Linked DNA regions of Homo sapiens. The protein of the gene in region 2 purifies or fractionates together with the protein of the main gene of each other region. This does not show direct contact. Each region holds a gene or a part of one and is shown on either strand. Other genes may lie near its edges. The genes, in order: PANK3 and FADS2.

Evidence for each region.
Region 1: the proteins of FADS2 (region 2) and PANK3 purify together in Homo sapiens (affinity purification with mass spectrometry; one large-scale study listed by BioGRID and IntAct). This does not show direct contact.

Annotation. Positions count from the first base shown.
Region 1 is NC_000005.10:168,555,230-168,559,040, reverse strand, and holds part of PANK3 (pantothenate kinase 3), read left to right. Parts: coding exon 1-9; intron 10-1,419; coding exon 1,420-1,470; 3' UTR 1,471-3,811. UniProt on the Homo sapiens protein: Catalyzes the phosphorylation of pantothenate to generate 4'-phosphopantothenate in the first and rate-determining step of coenzyme A (CoA) synthesis.
Region 2 is NC_000011.10:61,826,552-61,831,162, forward strand, and holds the start of FADS2 (acyl-CoA 6-desaturase), read left to right. Parts: upstream 1-1,748; 5' UTR 1,749-1,839; coding exon 1,840-2,046; intron 2,047-4,611. UniProt on the Homo sapiens protein: Involved in the biosynthesis of highly unsaturated fatty acids (HUFA) from the essential polyunsaturated fatty acids (PUFA) linoleic acid (LA) (18:2n-6) and alpha-linolenic acid (ALA) (18:3n-3) precursors, acting as a fatty acyl-coenzyme A (CoA) desaturase that introduces a cis double bond at carbon 6 of the fatty acyl chain.

The DNA.
Region 1 (3,811 bases), on a different chromosome or scaffold from region 2:
GAACATGAGGTATGGTAGGAAAATGTTTTTTGTGAATTTTAATAGCATGTTTTTTAAGAGACAGGGTCTTGCTCTGTCACTCAGGCTTGAGTTTAGTGGCACAATGATGGCTTACTGCAGCCTCTTCCTCCTGGGCTCATCAATCCTCCCACCTCAGCCTCCCAAGTAGCTGGGACCACAGGTATGCACCACTGTGCCCAGAAAATTTATTTTTATTAATATTTTTTGTGGAGACAGGATCACTCTTTGTTGCCCAGGCTAGTCTGGAACTCCTGGCCTCAAGCAATCCTTTATAGGTGTGAGCCACCATGCCCAGCCTTAAGTAGTAGAATATTGGTTCCTTCGCTTCAGTTTCAGTTGTGGGGAAGAGAATTACAATAACCTGTTAGGCACCCCCAGATTTTTTTGTATTCATTTACTACATGCAGTTAAGTTCTGATCTGAGCAATTATCAGTCCACATAATGTTTTGGATTAACTTAACTTGAATCATTTTGTGATCAAAGTCAAATGGCTGTATCATTACAAATTAGTAACAGAGATTCAAATTATTCTGCTCTTAAAAGCTTCCATGTCTTGGCCGGGTGCGGTGGCTCATGCCTGTAATCCCAGCACTTTGGGAGGCCAAGGCGGACGGATCACGAGGTCAGGAGATCAAGACCATCCTGGCTAACAACGGTGAAACCCCGTCTCTACTAAAAATACAAAAAAAAATTAGCCGGGCGAGGTGGCGGGCGCCTGTAATCCCAGCGACTCGGGAGGCTGAGGCAGGAGAATGGTGTGAACCCCAGGGGGCGGAGCCTGCAGTGAGTCGAGATGGCGCCACTGCACTCCAGCCACTCCAGCCTGGGTGATAGCGAGACTGTCTAAAAAAAAAAAAAAAAAAAAGCTTCCATGTCTCATTGTCACTGCTCACACAATACAAATCAGAATGGTGTGCCCTTGTGCAATTCCACATGGCATGCAGTGAGAGTGTCAGGCACAGCCACAGGAAGTTAGTTTGTTTTATTAAGTAAAGGGGAGAGGGTGCAGAATTGCTGTTACAGTCCTGGAAGCTTTAGTGTCTAAAGGCCACACTTTTAGAATACGTATTTCAGTGTGAGCCTATAGTCCCAGCTATTCAAGAGGCTGAGATGGGAGGACCATGTGAGCCCAGGAATTCAAGGCCAGCCTGGGCAAAATAGTGAGACCATGTCTCTAAAAATAATAATAATAAATAAAAATACATATTTCAAAGGTGTGTAGACATCAAGAATACAGATTCAGAAAATTTTTTATAATAGCTAACAACGCAGAAATTGGTAGGTTTCCAAATATTATTAAACAAATAGATTGTGCATAGTTGTGTGTTCTCAAGTGGTTAATATTATATGCTAACTTAAAAGCTGTACTACATAACAGTTATTTTTAAATTACACAGGGTTACTTTGGAGCAGTTGGTGCACTTCTTGGGCTGCCAAATTTCAGCTAAAGCATCAGGTCTCTCTCTCTGCTAATAAATGTCATCCAAGAGGAACTAAAACCAGAGGCATTATTACTGCATTGTTTGTCACTGGGAACCAAAGGATAAAAGAGTAGCATAAGCTGCTGAATGTTGCCATATTAAAGGAGAGAACTTGGTAACGTGAAGTATTTCTCATTGAAATGCTTTCCCTTTTGTATATAGCCAGTGTTAAATCCTTAAATGCAATACAGCCTCTGATTATTGAGCTTCCTCTTAAAAAGATTTTTTTATTTTATGTAGCCAACATTGCAGTACTGTATGCTCAAACACAAATCTTAAAGTATCGGAACTGTTTAGCTTATGAAAATAATCGACTCTGAATATTTGTTACAAGTCTGTTTTATGTGTTTTGATTACTAGTGAGCAGAAAATAACATACCCTGTATTCAAAATTACTGAAATGGCAATCAAAGATGATCATTTTTATGTGATTTTAGAAATGTTAAGGCAATACTACTAATTATTGTAGGTTTTTTTAACGTATCACCCAAAGCATGTATGTGATCTTTCCCCATTAGTATCTTTTTCTCAAATGCCATAATTAACTGAAATACTATTATTAAATTTTCATGAGAATTCTAAAATGAATCCTGGGAAATGCACGTTTGGTGATGTTGCACTTTCTGTATTTTACAGGAATTAGTCAATACATGTTGAAATGTTTAACATTTTAAGATTGGAGGCTTAATTACTGGGAGTCTGTCTAATGAAGTCCTGGGACTATTGTAATGGAATATGATTTGAGTTCACTGTGCTCTTTTTGTTTGTTTGTTTTGGTCATATATACATTCAGAACTTTTATTTTAAAACAACCACAATAACATTAATAATAGAAAATTCATCTGTAAATATTCACAGTCTAGTCACTGAAAAATGGGAAAACCTCTACCATGCCTTATTATTACCCTTTGCTGTTTGAGGAGCCAGAAATAGAGGTGCAGTTAGAGGACGGTCACTTTTTCCAACAAAACCCACTCCATAGCCATGTGGATTTTTATCCAAAGGCTCAACAACCAGAGGGAATGGTGAGACCTGATAACTAAAATACTGTTATTGGCAAGGGTTTGAAATGTGTAAGAACCTAGGAGGGAAAGGAAGATTGAGCAACATAGGAAAAGGGGAAGAGAGGCTGAGTGTCACCAAGGTCCAAACTCCATTTATAAAAATACTGCAAAACCAGGAGTTGATGGTAGAAATGCATATGATCCATGGCAGGAGTAAATCTCTCCACCTCCTCTAACTCTCTGAAAACTCTAGAGTTGGAGCAAGTCTTCCATTTGCTTCTTATCCCCTTAAAAGAATGCCTTCCACTTCCCAACAGCCCCCATCAAGGGACCCCAAGAGGCCACCATGCTCTTATCTCGCACTTTCTTTCCTATTCCCCTTGCCTGAATCTGGAGTGGGGTTGAGCCCTCTGCCTTCAACCTTAAGATTTAGGAAGTTCTTTCCCCAACTGTCTAACTTGGAAAGGTAGATGAGTCTGAATTTTGAAGTAACGAATGCAAATTCCACTCAGCAGAGGCAATGTTATTTATGTACATAGGGATAGTGGAATGAGTTTTAATAGATTCTGTCCAAAAGGGGTTTGTTCCTCTTATTTCCTCTATGTAGGAAGTTGTGTCTTAGGCAACTTTATCAGTATCAATGGAAAAATGATAGGCACTACAATGAAATGGCAGGATGCCAATATGAGATATTTCAGGAATAATAAGAAATACAGTTTGTTTGTATAAAATAAACTATCTCAAGAAAGTTTTCAACGACAGTGATAGTGTTCATTTGTAAGAGAGAGTTCTAGAACTTCGATGTCCAGTGCAGTAGCCACTACCCATATGTAGCTGTTGAGCATTTGAAATATGGTTAGTCCAAATTGAGATGTGCTCTAAAGGACAATAAAAGGTTAAATATCTCCTAATTTTTTGTATTGATTACATGTTGAAATGTTAACATTGGAAATATTGGGTTAAAGAAAAATACACAATTAAAATGAATCTTGGCCAGGCGCAGTGGCTCACGCCTCTAATCCCAGCACTTTGAGAGGCCAGGGTGGGCAGGTCACCTGAGGTCAGGAGTTCGAGACCAGCCTGGCCAGTGTGGCAAAACCCTGCCTACTAAAAATACAAAAATTAGCCAGGCATGGTGGTGCGCACCTGTAGTCCCAGCTACTTGGGAGGCTGAGGCAGGAGAATTGCTTGAACCCAGGAGGAGGAGGCTGCAGTGAGCTGAGATTGTGCCACTGCACTCCAGCCTGGGCGACAGAGTGAGACTCTGTCTCAAAAAAAAGAATCATCTGTTTCCAATTATTTTT
Region 2 (4,611 bases):
TCAACGTTTGACAGTCCTCAAGGCCACCATACTCTCTGGAGGTCTTGCTTCATCCTCTTATTTTGTACAGAAGGCTTTTGTTTGGGATGTCTGCTCACACTCAAAGACAGAGAGGCCTTACTGTCTTTATGTCTGCAGTCTGTGGAGTGAATGAAGGATGCTCAGGGCTGACACCAGCATGAAATGTGATGGGAGAGGTTGGGGACTGTGTGAATGTGAGGAAAGGGAGCCCATCTGCCCCCCCAAGTACAACCCCACCAGTTGGGCAGAGTGATCCCCCCACCACCCCTGCATTGCTGTGAAATTTAGATTGGGCAGGGCCCGTTTGACCATCTCTCTCAATCTCAGGCTCTCCATTTTCAAGTGAGATGTAATAATATGCGTCCTGTTTACCTCTCAGCCTGTGATGAGAATCTAATGATTAGGGTGTGCTAGCACACAGGCACCTGTAAATCCCATTGAAATCTGAGGGCCCTATAACTCCTCTAGTGATTCCCAAGCCTCGTGCACCCCACCCTCTCTGTTCATCCTTACTTCCCACGTGTCCCGTTAGCCCTCCGGATGCAGTCAGGCCCATTTCCCCCAGGACGCCCGGCACTAAGCCGCCCCATCCAGCTGGGGTCTGAGGGGCCTGTCTCTTGCCCCACGCCTAAAAGACCTAACCCTCCTCCTATCCCTTCGATACGGCAGTCTTTATTTGCTGGAGTCTGCACAACATCACTGCCCAATGATGTGTCTGCTTCCACGATTCCCAAAGAGACTGAGCTTACTGAGACCAGGGCAAGGACCGCGCCAGTTCCTCATCGCCCCCTTCCTCTGCCTTCCCCTCCCTTCCCCCTCACCGCAGCCATGGCGCCCAGACCAAGAAAGCAGAGCAGAGGTTCCGCAATTCTTTTCTAAGATTGTCTGACTAGAGGGTTCAAAGCCCTCTAATCCAAGGCCGGCTTGTGTCTCTAGGGAGGTTGCAGAAAGGCGCCAGAATGTGGATGGCGCGGACAATGTGGGATACTGGAGTCTCGACTGCCGCGCGCCAAGGAAGGGCGTCACCTAGCCAAGCCGGCCCTGGAGTTGAGTGCCCCGCAGCCCGCCGGTCCACCCGCCCGGCCGCTTGCTGGCACCCTGGTGGCCGCGCCGGCTTTGTGTCGGCATCAGGTGCAAACCCCCAGAGCGCCGGGCGTGCGCGCACGCGCCCCGGAGCGCGCGGAGCCCATTCGTTGCCCCCACCGGGATCTCCTCTAGGATCTCCTCCGGCGCCCGGGGCCGGAGAGTGGGGGAGGGAGGAGGTCGGACACGTAGCCTGCCTCGCAGCAGGGCTCGACTCCACGCGGGAGGGCGGGGGAGCCGGGGACCCGCCGCTCCAGCCCGCTGGCCTTCGAAAGATCCTCCTGGGCCAATGGCAGGCGGGGCGACGCGACCGGATTGGTGCAGGCGCTCTGCTGATCGCTGTGGAAACTCGGGCGGCGGGGAACGCGGGAGGATGTGGAACCCGAGGCGGGGGGAGCCGGAGGGGCGGGCAGAGGAGGTGTCGAGGCCCTGAGCTCCCGGGGAGTTTTTACTGGAGGCAAAAGTCCATAGCGGGAGGGCTGAGGGAGGGGCGGAGGAAGGGGACCGCTTGGGGGCACTGGGAAGCCAGGGATCCTCCGCCAGGAAGGCAGGGACACTCCCGAGCGCAGGCGAGAAGGCTGGGGGAGGGGGCGCGGTGGGAGGAGTAGGAGAAGACAAAAGCCGAAAGCGAAGAGGGCCCGGGCTGCACACACCGGCTGGGAGGCAGCCGTCTGTGCAGCGAGCAGCCGGCGCGGGGAGGCCGCAGTGCACGGGGCGTCACAGTCGGCAGGCAGCATGGGGAAGGGAGGGAACCAGGGCGAGGGGGCCGCCGAGCGCGAGGTGTCGGTGCCCACCTTCAGCTGGGAGGAGATTCAGAAGCATAACCTGCGCACCGACAGGTGGCTGGTCATTGACCGCAAGGTTTACAACATCACCAAATGGTCCATCCAGCACCCGGGGGGCCAGCGGGTCATCGGGCACTACGCTGGAGAAGATGCAACGGTAAGGGTCTGGGGGCGCCCCAGCCACCCTTCTCTGCTGCAGGCGGAGTCAGGATCCCTGGCTCCCCGTGGGCCAAACAGACCTCCGGCGCTGAATGGAGCTTGGGACGTCCTGTAGGGAAGGAAAGTGCATCTATTGCACTCGTACCCCCTCCCCAATCCTCCTCCTCCTCTGGGCCGACTGGGGTGGAGACCGGATCTGGGACCCGGGGAGGCGGCGCTGCGGTGAAAGTCCCAGCGGTGGAGAACAGGGCAAGCATCTACCGCGCGCGCCGGGACCCACGCGTCCTCCCCTTCCTCGGGGTTTGTCTGGAGGCAGGGACTCCCCAAGAGGGGCGCTCGGGCCAGACGGCTTTGGCGCCCCCAGCGGGGAAGATGGCCGCCCCTGCGCGCCGCTGAAAGGAGCGGGAGCGCAGGCAGCCAGGTGTGGGACTCCGCGCTTGTCCCGCACTCTCCATCCAGACTGGGTGGCGAGAAGGAAAGCTCGTCCCCGGCCGGAGATCGCTCCTGCTGGGACTCTTGTCTAAGAAGTTCCTCAATGGCCACCTGGGAAAAACCGCCCAGCAGCTCGGGTTCCCACGCTCCAGGGATTATCTAGACTCACCCCAAGCTCGAGCCGGCCTTCTTGGGGACCGGCGTCCGGGATTGGTGGAAGGAGAACGGCCTGGGGTTTGCAAAGCCCAGGTCGAGTGAGGCCTTGAGCCGGTGGATTTAGCAGCACTAGACTGGCTTGGCAACAGGTCCGTCTGCACTCGAGGTTACTCTCGGGCGTTCAACTCAATGGCTCTCTCTTTTTAAATCCTGCCAAGAACACCCTTCCCTCATCTTGCACTCCTAAAGGTTGTGGGCCTCTCTGGAGCCATTGCTGCCCACCTTACCCCCACCAAATGCGTGGCTCAGTGATTACCCCGCACCAGCTACCCGCACCGGGGACCCCAGTCTGAAATCCTGGCATTTATTTAAGGATGCAGCTGGTATCCCATGGATTCGAATGGGCCAGAAGGAAAAGAACAGAGGCAAGGAGGGAAGAAAGGGCGGCTTTTGGTGGTGGTAGTGAATTGGATGCAGAGAAAAAAGGTCTGATGGGATACAGAAATTGGGGAAAGTGAATAGGAGAGAGGCAGAAAGGAGGGATGAACTTGACGTAGATCATTCCACCTGGAGGTCTAGGATGCCCAACTGTTGGTGGGCTTTTGCTCTCTAAGCTGTGTAGGCCCGACCCTTAACTTCCCCACCTCTTGCATCTCATGGAGACAGGCCTAGGGGAAGGCCAGACCAGGCCACCATAACCCAAGCTGGACAATGGACAGGTGGTGTGGGCCAGCAGGGCCAGGGCTTATCTAAGATTGGGAAGGTCAGCGATACTGAAATTCCCTACAGCTTTCAGTCCCATCCTGTTTTACTTGCTTGTGGACATTGCTTAAGCCCAGTGGGTTTGTGATGCTATTTAGAACTTAGGTGGGTATGTTTCACATACCTTCAGTGCTATCTCACCTGGACCTTTACGCGGCCCAGTGAGGAGGTTGGGTTAATGTAACTCCTAAGTAAAGGACCTTCTGGATCCTGGCTGGGATCTTTCCACTATATGTTGCTGGACTTGGGCTGGTCTGTTTCTGATTTCATAGGTAAATTGTAGAAGGTTCCTGTCCTGTCCAGGCCCTCACCAAAAAGTTTCCAGAAGGAAAAGTCAAATACGATGAATTTGGTCTGATTATTCCACATTGTTAAACATATTTTCTTATGTGAACGCTTAGTCTGGCAATTGCCTTGACCTTTCTGGTTTAATTACCATATCAGATTGATTTATTTCTTCCTTGTTCTGGATGTTCTCAGTGCTTACCTGACCTTAACACTGAGTTCCCTCCAAAAATCAGTGCTCACATCTCTCCTAACAGAGGACTAGAATGACCTACTCTTCCCTGACCTTTTCTCTGTCTCATAAAAATGTAATAGTCTCGTCATTTCTGGTCCTGCTCCAGCGCTTTCTGTATAACTTTCATGGACTATAAATCTGGTATCTTGGATGTTGGTTGCTTTGTTACTTTCATAAGCTAGGGTGGGAGCCAACCGGGGCTGCAAACAGATCTAGAATTGAAGAAAGATGTCATTACTGGGCTCATCCACTAAGTGTTGTCACTTGACTGAGCCCCATCTCCTCATCTATAAGGTACACCTGTACCTGTTTCAATGAGACTGATTTGTGGCAAAGCACCCAGCAACTGTAACCACTAGATGAATGCAATGGGGTGTTATCAGGCAAACGGGAATAAGAACAAGTATTATGAAACAGCTAGAATGGAAAGTATGCAAAGAGGAATTTGAAGAAAAAATTTAAATCTATGCTAGCTTTATTTGGTGTAGCAACACGTAAAAGCAATCCCTGTCCCCAGAGCTTCCTGTCTTCTAAAATAAGACTTTTGGGGCATGAAATACACGAACTGGGGATACAGATTTGAATGATGGTGATGATGGAGTGAGCAGCTGGGTTCTCTTTGTTTTGTTTTGTTTTTTTAAACTGTCCAGGACCAGGTTGGAAAAAGGCCTTGAGCAGCGTGGGGTGGGTGGG